2 linked regions of the Homo sapiens genome follow. The protein of the gene in region 2 purifies or fractionates together with the protein of the main gene of each other region. This does not show direct contact. Each region holds a gene or a part of one and is shown on either strand. Other genes may lie near its edges.

Evidence for each region. The genes of interacting proteins can lie anywhere in the genome.
Region 1: the proteins of MTBP (region 2) and TICRR purify together in Homo sapiens (affinity purification with western blotting; 2 studies listed by BioGRID). This does not show direct contact.

The regions. Positions count from the first base shown.
Region 1 is NC_000015.10:89,599,266-89,606,965, reverse strand, and holds part of TICRR (treslin), read right to left. Parts: intron 7,643-7,700; coding exon 7,491-7,642; intron 6,382-7,490; coding exon 6,281-6,381; intron 5,669-6,280; coding exon 5,575-5,668; intron 5,478-5,574; coding exon 5,398-5,477; intron 5,230-5,397; coding exon 4,990-5,229; intron 4,171-4,989; coding exon 4,074-4,170; intron 199-4,073; coding exon 141-198; intron 1-140.
Region 2 is NC_000008.11:120,511,268-120,518,967, reverse strand, and holds part of MTBP (mdm2-binding protein), read right to left. Parts: intron 3,754-7,700; coding exon of another isoform or gene 3,750-3,753; exon of another isoform or gene 3,732-3,749; intron 3,666-3,731; exon of another isoform or gene 3,538-3,665; intron 3,044-3,537; coding exon 2,777-3,043; intron 1,118-2,776; coding exon 868-1,117; intron 265-867; coding exon 151-264; intron 1-150. UniProt on the Homo sapiens protein: Inhibits cell migration in vitro and suppresses the invasive behavior of tumor cells. May play a role in MDM2-dependent p53/TP53 homeostasis in unstressed cells. Inhibits autoubiquitination of MDM2, thereby enhancing MDM2 stability.

The sequences.
Region 1 (7,700 bases), on a different chromosome or scaffold from region 2:
CATGGTATTTGGACATATTTTATTAGCCAACAATCATACAAAGCCTTAATTTACACCTGTAAGCAGCTGCTTAAATACATACAATAAAAATAAAGTTGTCATGCTAGTGAATAAATACATACACTGAGAAAACAGTATACCTTGCACTGTATCTTTCACTGGCTGGGAAGGCTGCTGAGGAGCAGGGTGAGAGTTCTCCTGAAACATGAGAAAATCCAGAAAGAAAATTTAAATAGGCATTCATTGAAATAAAAGAATAAAGATTTCACATGAACTCTTTGACTCTTGTAATTCATTTATAGGGATCCATAATAGAAATAATAAAATGTACAACAGAAATGTTCCAAAAACACTCAATGCTGCACTATAGTAATAACACAAAATAAAAAACACTATAAATGCCCATAAAGAGTGAAACAGTTAAATAAATTACATACCCATCCAATGCAGACATTACAAGAGTAAGGAAGGAAGACCTCTCTATATATGGTTGAGCATCCCTAATCTGAAAATCCAATATGCTCCAAAATCCAAAACTTCATGAGTGCCAACACAACACTCAAAGGAAACACTCAGTGGAGCATTTTGGACTTCTGGATGTGGGGTGCTAACCAGTAAGTACATGTAATGCAAATGTTCCAAAATCCAAAAACATCTAAGAATGGAAACACTTCTGCTCCTAAGCATTTTGGGTAAGAGATACTCAACTTGTACTAACATAGAGATCTGTGATAGGGAGGAAAAAGGAAAATATTAAGTATTCTAAGTTATATCATTTATATATATGTATATAACGGATCTGCATAAATCTTTGGTGTTATTGGTGCATATAGAAAAGGGCCTGGAAATATACACAACAAACTATCATCAGTGATTACTTCTGATGAATGGATGGAGAAGGAACACCCTAACTTTTAACTTTATATGTTTTAACTTTTTAACGATAATCATGCATACCTTTTATACCTAATAAGGGAAAAGCCATATACATTAATTAGAGGGAGGCTATACTCTCAGAAACATTTCTTTATCAGACTGCTATGTACTTGCTATTACAATAGAAGATTCAAGAGTCTAAACCCCAGATGCATCAAAACAAGGAAACTGTTTTTTTAAAGATTTTTTGTTTTTTCAATTCATCATAATAATTGAAGAAGCCACCACATATGGGCAGAAACTTAACAAATGGTCTCAGTGATATAACCAAGGTCTTGCTGATAAGACATGAGATGTGATCATTCTTACTTATATTGATTAATAACTCTTATAAAGAGATAAACTATAATTGTAAAAATATGTCACACATCCGGCTGGGCGCAGAGGCTCACGCCTGTAATCCTAGCACTTTGGGAGGTCGAGTGGGCGGATCACGAGGTCAGGAGATTGAGACCATCCTGGCTAACATGGTGAAACTCCATCTTTACTAAAAAATACAAAAAGTAGCCAGGCGTGGTGGTGCACGCCAGCTACTCGGGAGGCTGAGGCAGGAGAATGGCGTGAACCCGGGAGGTGGAGCTTGCAGTGAGTCGAGATCGTGCCACTGCACTCCAGCCTGGGCGACAGAGGGAGACTCCATCTCAAAAAATAAAAATAAAAATAAAAGTCATACATCCAATTTCCTATCCAGGGTTCAGTAAACTACAGTGTACAGACCAAATCTGGGCCACCTCTTGTTTTTGAAAATAAAGTTTTTACTGAAACATAGTCATGCTCGTTTCTTTCCATAATGCCTGTAGCTGCTTTTCCACTATAGCAGAACTGAATAGATGTTGCAGAGACGTATGGCCTGCAAAGGCTAAAACATCTACTATCTGGCCCTTTACAGAAAAAGTTTGTCAACCCTTGTTAATCCATGTAATTGAATGAAAAACTAGGAGAGTATGTCCTGAAGGTATTAAGGCAGGATCAAATATTTTTTTTTTAATCCTTGTGATCTTCTGGAGTTAAGATACGTAAAAGAAATTAATATACATTAATGTAATTAATACTATATGTCTACGCTTAAGTTGTAAGTTCACTGCTTCCCGAGTTAACTATATTGGTCCTTCAGAGAACTGAGATTTATTCTTTTAAAAATGTAACATCTGGTCCTTTCAGTTAAACAATTGTCACTTATCTATGGTACCAACTTTGACATGAAAAAACATTACTAACCACAATCAAATCCTGACCTCAATTTTTTTTTTTTTTTTTTTTTGACAGAGTCTCTCTCTGTAACCCAGGCTGGAGTGCAGTGGCTTCATCATAGTTCATTGCAGCCTCAAACTCCCAGGCTCAAGCGATCCTCCTACCTCAGCCTCCCGAGTAGCTGGGACTACAGGAGTGCACCACCATACCTAATTTTTAAATTTTTTGTAGAGCCAAGGTCTCACTATGTTGCTTAGGCTGGTCTCCAACTCCTGGGCTCAAGTGATTCCTCCTGCCTTGGCCTCCCAAAGTTCTGGCATTATAGGCATGAACCACTGCGCCCAGGCGTTAATTCTGATCTTAGAGAAGAAAACTGTCTTGTCCAATCTAAAACCAAAGTTTCAAAGTGTGCTAGAAAGATCTGCAAATCATTGTAAAATCTAGTGAGAATAAAGGCCTGGCAACTTTTGGCCATTCACTTTCGGATTTTCCAATCTTCAATCAGGATTGTGAGATATATAAGATATGCATTTTATTCACAAAGTATAAGAAAGTGAACACCATTAACCATTTAAAAGAAATCCCACCTCCAATTCCAAAGGACTGCTACAAATATCTAGAAACAGAACAAACCACTATTATAATAATTAATGCTTCTAAAGATAGTTCTTATTGAATTTTAACTCTTCTCAGATAGTTCATGCAGTTGAAAAGTTTCATTGTGTTTTTAGTCTCCCTTTTTTCCTCAGCGAGACATTAATTCTACTTAGTAAACAGATTCCAGCTAGGTTTATTTTTTTTTCAACCAATAAAAACCTCAAGTCCTTATATCAACTGCCATGAAAAAAACAACAATAGTACCCCATTATCTGTGATTTCACTTTCCATGGTTTCAGTTTCCCATAGTCAACCATGGCCCCAAAATGGGTGAATATAGTACAATAAGATATTTTGAGAGGAAGACCACATTCACATAACTTTTATTATATTATATTGCTATAATTGTTCTATTTTACTATTGTTGTTAATCTCTTACTGTGCCTAATTTACAAATTGAACTTATGCATGCATAGGAAAAAACAGTACTATATATAGGGTTCAGTACTATCTGTGGTTTCAGGCATCCACTGGGGGTCTTGGAACATATCTTCTGCAGATAAGGGGCGACTACTCCACCTCCTGGCTCCATGATGGTCATCATCTTTTTCAAAAAACTTGTTATTCATTCATTTATTCATTCATTAATTCACTTAAGAGATGAAGTCTTGCTTTGTCACCCAGGCTGGAGTGCAGTGGCACGACCATAGCTCATTGCAGCTTTGACCTACTGGGCTCAAGCAATCTCCCTGCCTTAGACTCCTGAATAGCTGGGCCTACAGGCATGTGCCACCATGCCTGGCTAATTTTTTCTTAATTTTATTTTTTGTAGAGACAGGGTCTCGCTATGTTGTCCAGGCTGGTCTCAGACTGTTGGTGTCAAACTATCCTCCCTCCTCTGACTCCCAAAGTGCTGGGATTATAGGTGTGAGCCGCTGTGCCTGGCCTAAATTTGTTATTAAAGTAAAATATAACATATTGAAAAGCACCTTCTGGTATGCAACCAAAGTCCACTTACAATTGTATATTCTCTTCCAGTGACTGCTTTGCTTATTTTAGTTATTGTTTTATGAGTTTTCCTATCTACATTAAAGATTTTGAATTAATTCATTCCTAACTTTTACTTGCCATTTTTCTTCACATTACCTCTAACTATCACACTCTTGAGTAAAATTGTTAATCTCTTGACAAGTTTATATTTCTTTATTCCTTGGATTATAGTTTTATACACATTCATAAAAATATTTAATATTATTTCTGTATCCTCCAAAGTTCATTTTCCTAAAAGTAGGGACACTGCCTTTTTGTTCTTATTTACTGTGTCATCTCAAGCTGGAAGGTTTACTTACTTTTTTCGTAGCTCTCTTTGACACTTTAGGAATTTCAATTTGTCGAAGATTCTGTGAAACCTCAGCAATGCTTTTATGTCTTATTAATGCATTTTTCCTTTTAAAAATAGAAATAGTTAATACATACTAGATAGAGGTTATATATAGTTAAATTCAAATGGAACTGGAGTCTAAGTAAAATAAAATATGATTTAAATAAAAGCCAGTTATCTTAAGGTTGTTCTGGGTTTATAATAAAACAAGTCACCCCAGAATTTTCAAAAGTAACAAATTCAACCAGTTATGAACAACGAAAAGCATCAAGGGAAATTTAAAAAGCTGAAACTCTAAGCTTATTTCATAGAAGGCCTAGTTTCTGGAGACCTCATGTGGACAGTAAAGAAGACTTTGTGAAATAGGAAATAAACACTATACAGTCATGCAATGTTTCCTTCAATGACGAACTGCATATATGACAATGGTCCCATAGGTTATAATGGAGCCTATATAGAAACCTAATAAATGACACTTGATATTGGCATTACAGATCAAGTAGGGGAAATGACTGCTATTCAGTAACAATGCTGGAACATTAGCTTTTCCATATGAAAAAATATACATAAATGAAAAAATATATACTATCTAGGTTTTGGTAGGCACACTCTGATGTTAGTACAACAAAAATTGCCTAACAATGCATTTCTCAGGATGTATCCCTGTTGTTAAGCAAAACATGACTATATATTTCCTAGATAATATAAAGATTGTCAGATGCTCCTATTAGGAGCTCTAATAGTTGGCTTCTCTGATTCAGACATAAGGGCAGCTATTAGTTCAACAAATTATATGGACAAAGATGACTGGACTGTAGTTTAAACACATCTTTTATCAGAACTATAACAGTGCAAATAATTCCTTTGATTCTTTGACCTCTTACCTTCTCTTCTTGGCTGATCTGGTACGAAGTTCCTGCAGTTCATCAGATTCAGGGCTGCCTGACACTGATCTACGAGCACTTGACAAAAAAGGCACAGAAAGAAGTGGTGATTTGTTCTCTTGTGTCATGGAGTCATCACTGAAAAAATCTGTAGGAAGGACACCAGCCAGCTTCTGAGGAATCACAAACCCTAGGCTGTTGTAAAGATTTCCAAGTGTCTTTGGGATAGAGTCAATATACCTGTGGAACAGATTGATCGAATACGGAACAGTTACCATCTTACCCTCTCTATTCCCTCCCTCACCCAGCCTAAAAAGTAGTCCTTACAACTCCAAAATTCAGAGACAACACCATACATAGGTTTTGACAAAACAATTTTAAAGTTAAGTTAGTAACCATCAAACTTACAATCTCAAAATTTCCTCCAGAAACTCTGCTAGGTACGCTGAATCCTCAGTTAAACACACCATGCGCAGCAAATCTGTCACCTGAAGGAGATTTTAGAACGTTACTATATAGATGCCCTCTGCAGGGAAGCTGAAAGCATCTAGGGCGTATTTCAATGGCACGAAACTATATACTTGCCTCCTCCACTACTTGTTCCATATCATCTGTACTTTCATTTATTGAAGGGCATTGCAGACACATCTCCAAACGAAGAAATACCTGAAGCTGGCACCTTGAGAGAAAAAAATACTTGGTCATATCTACTTTGGATGTCACTAAACAAAAAGCTCCTTCCGTAAGCATAGATCTATTTATATAAGACACAACAACCAAAAAGGAGGAGAGCCAGTGCCTTTTCTAAAAACTGATGTAGTTATTAGATAAATAGGTGATTCAAGCTGCATATTATAACATAAAAAAGAATTGGCTACAAAAGCATCTTCATGCAGTTGGTAATCTTTTTTTTTTTTTTTTTTTTTTTCCTGAGACAGGGTCTTGCTCTGTTGCCCAGGCTAGAGTGCAGTACTGGGATCATAGCTCACAGTAGTCTTGAGCTCCTGGGCTCAAACAATCCTCCAGCTTCAGCATCCCAAGTAGCTAGGGCTACAGGTGTACACCACCATGCTCACCTAATTAAAAAAAATTTTTTGGTAGACACGGTCTCACTATATTGCCCAGGATGGCCTCAAATTCCTGGCTGCAAGCAATCCTCCTGCTTTGGCTTCCCAAGGTACTAGGATTACAGGCATGAGCCACCATGTCACGAACAATCTATTTTAAACTGATACGAGCTAATCTCACAGCTTTTAGAGTGATGATTTTTTAAAAAATGGTAGTTACTTACTCTCTAACTTTGTCTTCCTTATCCAGTTTTTTTCCTAGATTCTGTCGAAGACTTTTACTAGTTTTTAAGAGACTACTTTTTACTTGATTCAGGCAGTTCACCTAAAAATACAAAATTATTACATAGGAGAATAGTGTTACTTGTCATTATTTCTAATTTCTTTCACAGTTGACTAAAGGGAAATATATTCCCTTATAAACTTCTCTATTCTTTCATTTGAATGAAAAAGTGACGTGAATATTCTTCTTTTATATCTTTAAAAAGAACATGGTAAAAGTTATTTTGAGAGCTAGTGGGCATGGATAAAACAAGCCTGCCCTAAATAAAGTGTCTTAAAAGAAACGTTCCATAAAGCAGTGCTTAAGAAACCTAAGTATCATAAACAAATCCTCCTGTTTGCTTTAGAGAAGGAGCTCCGTGATGGCCACTGAACATGAATAAAACAACAACACGGTCTAAAACAGTGGTTTGCAACACTCCCAGTGCAAAAGGATTATCCAGGGGGCTTTTTAAAAGCGCCAACCCCAGAGATCTGTTTCAGTTCATCTGGAGAGAGCAAGGCATATATATATATTCTTTGGAGATGGAGTCTCGCTCCGTTGCCCAGGCTGAAGTGCAATGGTACGATCTTGCCTCACTGCAACCTCCACCTCCCAGGTTAAAACGATTCTCCTGCCTCAGCCTCCCGAGTAGCTGGGATTACAGGCACCTACCACCACATCCAGCTGATTTTTGTATTTTTAGTAGAGACGGGGTTTCACCATGTTGGCCAGGCTGGTCTCAAACTCCTGACCTCGTGATCCACCCACCCTGGCCTCCCAAAGTGCTGGTATTACAGGCGTGAGCCACCACGGTTAGTTGGCATATATATATTTTTTAAATGCTGTAAGTGATTCTAAAGTATAGCCAGGGTTAAAAACCACTGGCTTAATCATGCAGCTAACATATAGCTCACATGAGGAAAGGCTTTTCATTAGGAGAGAATTATATGTAATTATCCCCGCTCACCCCATCTCTTTGATTTCTGCCTTACCAGTTCACCATATCCACCTTCTGAGATCTGGAACTGTACTTACTCCCTTACTTATCTTACCATTTTTGAATCACATATGACATAACAGACATTTTCCAAGACACTAACCAAATCCACCACCAACCAACCAACCAACCACTACATCCATGACAAACAACAATATCTGGACCCTCTTACTTCTAATTCCTTGGTGCCTTTTGATTTTAGGAACATTTTAACGGTTGAGATCATGTTTCGAGCACATGCATACAACATGATTTCTCCTGTGGCCACAGTCTTTTGGTAATTTTCACGTATATATGATAGCAGCTCTTCCTCAGTTTTAAAATCTGAGAAAAAAATAAAATAAAATGGATTAATCATATCTTGCTCAAGTCCTTGTATTAC
Region 2 (7,700 bases):
TTTGGCTTCAATTTTTCTATCTCCATCATTTAATAAATCTGGCAGCAAGTATACGCTCTCAGTATAAAAAATACTCAAACTTTTTTTTATGTCAAACAGGAACATTAGAACATGAACTAAATTTTGCCATTAGTAGAGAAGATACCGTACCTTTAGATAGAACTTAGAGATTTCAAAGAGACGCTGGCTGCATGCAGTGAAACATTCATGAGTCTCGGTAATACTGTGTTTCTTCAGGGTTTCAGTAACTACTTCTTTCAGTATCTTGAACAGAACATAACATATGACGAATATTTCTTGGAAAAGGCACAAACCTATTATTTCAGCTTTAGAGTTCAATCCTGTGAATTACACATTCATTTTGCTGTGCTAAAAGACAGACAGGTTCATTAAGACAAAATGATTGAGAAAAAAAAGATCTAACATTTACATGGTCAGAAGTGTCACAGGAATAATATGTTAGCAGGAAATGACTACAGTGTCTTAAGAAAGGAACTCAAATCATGAGTTCTGAATTGAAATCTGAGTGTTAAAGTTACACACAGCAGGGATATGTAAGTGTATATTTATTTTTTATTATGGGAAATTTCAAGCATAGAAAAGTAGAGAATATTTGACACGCACAGAATATTTTATAACAAATTTCTATCTTGATATATCTTTTAACCAGCTTCAAGTATGATTAATCTGTGGCTAATCTTGTTTCAATTATATCCCCACCTACTTTCCTATCATCCTTCTTACACCAGTAAATTCTAGACATCGTTTCATTTCATTCATAAAATTTTTTAGACATATATTTTAAAGTAATCAAATTTAAAAAGTCTTCCTATGTAGAACTAAGAAAAATGGGAAATAAATCTTTACCCGTGTGTGTTTCTGTGATCTTGATTCCTTAATTTGCCTTGATGTTTTTGATTCATGCATACTTTTTTGACCTGAACTGGTCTTTGTAGCAAGTTTTGGAGTTTCACAGCTAGGAATTGGAACCAATGGACAAGTCACTGGTAAGGACCGTTCTGTTTGTGGCTTTCTGGATGTCACATGATGATGATAGTGATTACTATTACCAGTTGTCTGAGAAAGAAGAGACTCTGAACTTTCAGATTTCACAAGTCTATATAGCAGGGGAAAAAAATCAAGAACGTAGATTAAGCGAATCAACATCGAAGTTCATTTTCTGTCTTAAATATTACAACTATATCCATTAAGTGAATCAACATCGAAGTTCATTTTCTGTCTTACCAGTGTGTTACCACTATATTATACCACTGTTATTACATAATAGATAATATATAACATAATATATTACATAATATATAACACTATACCACTATGTTATAGTGTTACCACTATATCCATTATAACATAAATTCAAGAAAAGCAAACAAAATTTATTGCTATTACTGCCTTAAGTAAGCAATAAACATCATATTATAAAGTTGTTCCTTAGTTCTTCAGATGAGTAACTAACACATAGAAGGTAATGAATAGCAAACTAGGATTTTGGCTAATAGAGAAAGCAACAAACAATATTGTTATACTCTCTCCCATCCCTCCAATTTACAATTTCTCAAATAAATCAGCTATGCATGCCAAGAGTGCTGCTATTTATAGATTTAATACTAATCTGTTAAATATTTATACTTTTCTGTTAAGATAATTTGAACAGAAACACCACAACCTGTATCTTTTTATACCCATGGAACTCCCTTGCAAAATAAGTCATAGTGTTAAAACAAATACAAATAAACTATAAAACTGGTTCATACTTCAATCTTCCTAAAATGTTTACATTTGTTCCTGACAAGGCCCAAATTTTTCCCTTTACAAGATAGGGTCTTATAGCCCTCAATTCTGCTGACCCAGAAGCCACAGTATACATTCCTTTTAGGAACACATATATTTTTATTAGCCATAGGTCAGAAATAAGAAATATGGCTATAAATATAGTACCCCAAATGTAACTGCTGCTTTTTAATTTTATCAGGTATAAAAAGTACCATGAATTTATAAAGTCCTCATAAAAATGACTGAGTTCTTCCATATCAGGGTAACCTTATTCTAACTTTCTTAACTATTCAAAAAAAGATCTGAAAGTTATGTTTTCATATAGTTCATACTTTTTGCAAGGTTTAAATACAATAAGAATTCAAGCCTTGCTTTAGATGCCAAGAACCTAAGTTTGACAAAGGTTCTAAAGATAACATAAATTCAATAAAAATTAGTGTTCACTACATAAACTTCTAACTTCTGATCAAGTATCTGGATATTTCATTTAGTTAGCAAACTAACGCATCCAGAAAAGTTTCATATATTCTATCATTATGCAGTGTTTAAAGCTATATTTTATATGTAACAGGTGTTTTAAAAATGGTACCTCATGGAATCTCTTGCTCAAGGGAACAATGCAGGCAGGAAACTGAGGGGAAAGGAAAGGAAGAGCTAATGGGAGAACTCCCATCCCCAAACAGTCTCTTCAACAGGGCAGCTCAGCAGCTTAATCTATGGGGTGAAATCTCCACTGTTCCATGGCTTAAAAACTTTACAATCCATTGTGCTAATGGACTGTATATTAGCATATAAAGCAAGAAACTGTGTTTTTTTCCCAAATCATTTATTTTTATAACTTATAAGCAAAATTATCAACAGCTCATAAAACAAACTTCTTGCCATGAAGAAATTAACCTGAAAGACTAATATAAAATAAAATAAAAATCCTCGAGACTAAAATACTTTCTGTCAATATACTATTTATGTGCATGTAATATATCACCTTTTTCTGGGATAAAGGCAATTCAGATCTTTAGATCTCCGTTTCAATCGGGATACTTCAGTTCGAAGTTCATTTTGTAAAACTTCTCCGTCAGGGACACTTCCAGGATCTGACGAAACTACAGGAGATGGAAGAGGGCTCAACACAGTAGGTACTGGAAAACTTTCTCTGGTGCAGGTAGTTTGAGTTTCATAACGAATAAGACGAGACTGAAGTTCAGAAAATCCTCCATCTCTTTCCAAAGCTTTTCGGTCATCCAAGCAATATCTAAAATGAGTGAAAGAGCATTAAAATGTAAACCTCCATGAGAGCAACAGACTTTCCCCTTTCAATGAGAAAATAGCAGGACATTTACTTTAAGAGTTCTTGTTTAATTTCCTAATAATTGCTGGAAGGTTGAGTGGCTGGCCTATTTCCCTCCCAAGTTCAGTTTTCTTCTAGTTTGCTATATGATATGGCAAAAGATTAAAAAATGTCTTTCACTTGTGTTTCTCTTTCACTTGTGTTTCTGGGCAACAGATTAAGTTAATCCTTTGGCTTATTTTCAAAATAATACAGTTGCTGTTTTAATGCTTTTTAAAACTCTACCAACCCCTGATTTCTCAGTATGGCTGATATATGACAACATGAACTGCTGACTTCTGTTAGAAAGGGCAAGTTTATTCTCAACACAAAGATTAAAAGGGTATAAAGGCATTCTAAACTGGCTCACCAAACAGCTTAGAACATTTAGAATTTTTTCTTTGAAACTCAGTTCCCACCTTATTAACTAATTGACAGATTTTCCTTCAAACACTTCGGCTGTCTGTGCATGTGGTTTCTAGCTGAATCTGATTCAGGGCATCAATGAAATGTCAGCTCAGTGAATGCTTCTGGACTCAAAGAAATCCTAGGTTGTTAAGTACAACAAACAAGGATATCAGGAAGATCACCTAGGAGCTGTGTGACCTTGGACAACTCTTCACTTTCTTCCTTATCTACAACAGCATTAAAAAAACACAAATGGCTTCACATATGTGATGGTAGCACTGTACAAATTAAAACCTTTCTCTGTGACCTGTCATTTTTACCTGCAAAATTCTAAGATACTGCCTAAAATCAGATTTTTGTATCCAAAAGATTTAGTTCAACTCCCAAGGAGTGTTATCATTTCCTGAACATCTGACTGCTTGATGGAGGTTTTAAGAACCTTATCTTTCCCTTGTGACACTTACATATTTGATACAGACTTACGGAGTCAGAGTCCATGGATTTAAATCCAGGCTCCTCTACTTATTAGCTGTGAGAACTTGGCCAAATTACTTAATTTTATCTATGATTCTGTTGCTTCATCTGCAAAATGAGAATTATAGTACTTATCTGAAAAAGCTATTGTGATAATTTCTTGAATTGTACACATAAACACTTAGAATCAGTGCCTGAAACATGCAAACAGGGCAGTCAAGAAATGTATGTTACTATTATTGTTATCATCATCATTAGATTTATTTTCTACCACAGTAAAGCTGGCAGTATGCTGACAATATGTAGCACAGCCAGAATGTAAACCCAGGTTGGTGACTTCAGAGCCTGACTTTAACCATTTTGGTATACTATCTCTATGTAAAGTGTAAGAATCATCTTACTCCTGTTCAACACATGGCTGAGCATTAGAACCATCTGAAGAGCTTTCAAGAAATACTACTTGCTCAGTGTTTCTGATTTAATTGGTCTAGGGTAATACTCTGTCTTTGACAGTTTTAAAAATCTGCCTGGGTGATTCTTAAAAAACTACTCAAATCCATAGAAACAGAGTAGAATAGTGGTTATGGGGATGGGGAAGGTTATGGAAAGATGTAGATTAAAGGGTACAAAGTTGCAGAGTTATGTAGGATGAATAAATCTAGAAATCTAGCATACAGTACAAGGACTATAGTTAATCATATGTACTGTATATTGAAAATTTGCTAAGAGACTAGACTTTGGGTGCTCTTGGCACACAAAACAAGAGGTAACTATGTGAGATGATGGTTATGTTAGTTTGCCTGGCTACAGTGATCATTTCACTATACATACGTACATCAAAACATCTTATTATATTAAAATTAATTATATTTAAATATTAAAAATACACACTTTTTAAAAAGTCTACTTAGATGATTCTAAATTATAACTAGGACTGAAAAATCTCTGATCTACTCAGTTTAATTTAACCGGTGACAAAATTGATCTCTAAATCTGAATGTGAGTTGGTGGCAGAGTAGGGAGTAGAACCTAGGTCTTGGCATCTCTCTAGCTAATATTCTTTCTCTAGTCTGTTGCTTAAGAAACATATTTCATTAAAAACCAGAAGCAACCCTAAGGGTTACTGATGAGTCCGACTTCTATCATGGGTAATTGGTAGAATCTAGAGTAAAATTGGAAATGTGAATTTCAAGAGTCTGGCAAGAGGCAATATAATGCCTGATGAGCTTGAATACAGAAAATTTTTGAGAGAAAAGATGCATATTTTGATTCTAAGATGAATATTTCTTTCTACCTTAAGATTTTATTTCTAAGATGCAGATTTTTTTCTTCCGGTTTTAACATCTCTTGATCACAGCTGTTCATAGTGTCATAGCTTCAACTGAATTATGCACACTGTACATGTTGATGTTAATTGCCATTTAAAATATCTTTAAAATGATTATACTATGATTTGCCATCGGAACAAAAATTTACTTTGTAAATTAGAGAAAAGAAACAGAGAGGCAAGGGGCAGGGTGTATATTTGATATTAGTGAAGTAAAAATTTATTGTTGGATGAATGACCACAATTCCATATTTTCTTACAAAACAATAAGCAAATGCTTTATGGGTCCTAACAAAGAAAAACACCCATAAGACAATGAAGCTGTTTTTGTTTTGTAACTAAGAAATACACAAAATACTGCCTATCACAAACCAACCAATACCAATTAAGGCAGAAGGAACTGCCAAATCTCTTGGAATAGATGAAGGAAGTTTCAAAGCAATGAGAGCCTGGTGTGATCAAATGATTGTCAGAGTATGACAGCAGAGTTTAATTAGCTGTTTAATAAAACAGTGTATTTTACAATTAATGGCATCTTAAATTCCAGGATAGGGTAAATAAGTGAAAAAACAAACAAGCCAACAGTGGTTAATATTTTAACTTGCCTTAAAAAACATTGTTTTGCTCCCATGCCATTAACACATTCTTTCCAAATATTCCTTTGTATCAGAGAAAGAGCTCCAGGGTTCTAAAGGCCCACAATAACGTAAGAGAACTTTCTTTGTAGTTTCATATTTACTTTAAAATGTTACTTGACTTTGTTTCTACACCATAATCTATGTTGAACATAAATCGGTTCTCATACTATACACCCAAATCTTCTTGAAAAAAACATGTTTCTGAATTCATGGTGCTCACCTCCTACAACTTTGTCAGCCTAGTCTCAATGTCCCCAGTTTAATGAGCATAAATTTACAGTAAAAAAAAGTGAGTCACAGATAGATTTGTTTATTTGTTTATGGGAGTAGGTAGGTAGTGGAGAAGAGAAATACTTTTTACAGTGAATCAGAATTTCATAACATTGTATGTGTATAAGTTAATAAAGCTCTGTGTAGATTTAAGCCCTTCAGGACACAGTACTCAAATAAATCTTAATTTAATATTTTGATAAATGATCATGAAGAACATATCCTTGACAAATTTTATAAATTTGTATATATCAAGATTTCTTCTATAGTAAATTAAAAACAGCAGAAAAAAAAGAGTAGCGAGATGGAGACACAGAATAAACAAAACTAAATTAAAATTTTGGGAGAAATAATCTAAATAAGATTATATGATGGACACTTTAGTCAGCAGTTAAAATGTAATTATTGTAGCTTATTTTATTCAAATCAGTGCTTCAGTGTGTTTATAGGGCTGAAGAAGAGAAAAACAGATGTGTCCTGGGGTATTCTGGCCATGTAGCAAAGCAAATGTTAATACTAGCACATTTTCTCAACAGTGAACGCTACTTTTCATAATAATAATATAAACACTGTTGACTGGTTTCAACTTTCACATTCAAATTAAATACAAAATACCTAAAATTTTTAATTAGTTTCCTTTAACAGATTAACAGATTAACAGGTCCTAAAATTCTTATCAAACAAAGTGGGGGAGATACTGCTTTATAGCTGATGGAATAAGAAGGAGAAGTTTAAATGTGTATATATTTAAAAACATGAAAGTAAATAGCGGAGAGCTCAACTTGAGAAGAAGAACCAAATCTTCATAGCAGAGTCAATATTTTATATTGTGACAGTTAAAAATATTGACATAAGGGTATTTTTTAAAATGAGAGATAACCACCAGGGAAACTAAACCAAACAAATAATATATATATTGTTTTTTTCTAAAAACTGGGATGCAGTTAGGTAGTAATAAGGAAAGGAATTGTTGGTTTTCATTATAAACTTTTCTATAATGTTTAATTTCTAAGTCTTTAATAAAATCAGAAGGGGGAAAACAGAAAAATATATCCTATTAATCAAATGTTTATATAGTAGAACAAGATGTTCCCACTTAAATTTAATGAACTTAGTATAAATGAAAAGTAAAATTTTGGGGTGGGTGCGGTGGCTCATGCCTGTAATCCCAGAACTTTTTGAGGCTGAGGCAGGTGGATCACCTGAGGTTAGGAGTTCAAGACCGCCTGGCCAACATGGCTAAACCCTGTCTCTACTAAAAATATAAAAATTAGCCAGGCGTGGTGGTGCATGCCTGTAATCCCAGTTACCTGGGAGGCTGAGGCATGAGAATCACTTGAACCCGGGAAACGGAGGTTGCAGTGAGCCAAGATTGTGCCACTGCACTCAGCCTGGGTGAAAAAGTGAGACTGTCTAGAAAAGAAAAAAGAGAAGTAAAATTTTGTAATCAATCCACAGAAGGGTA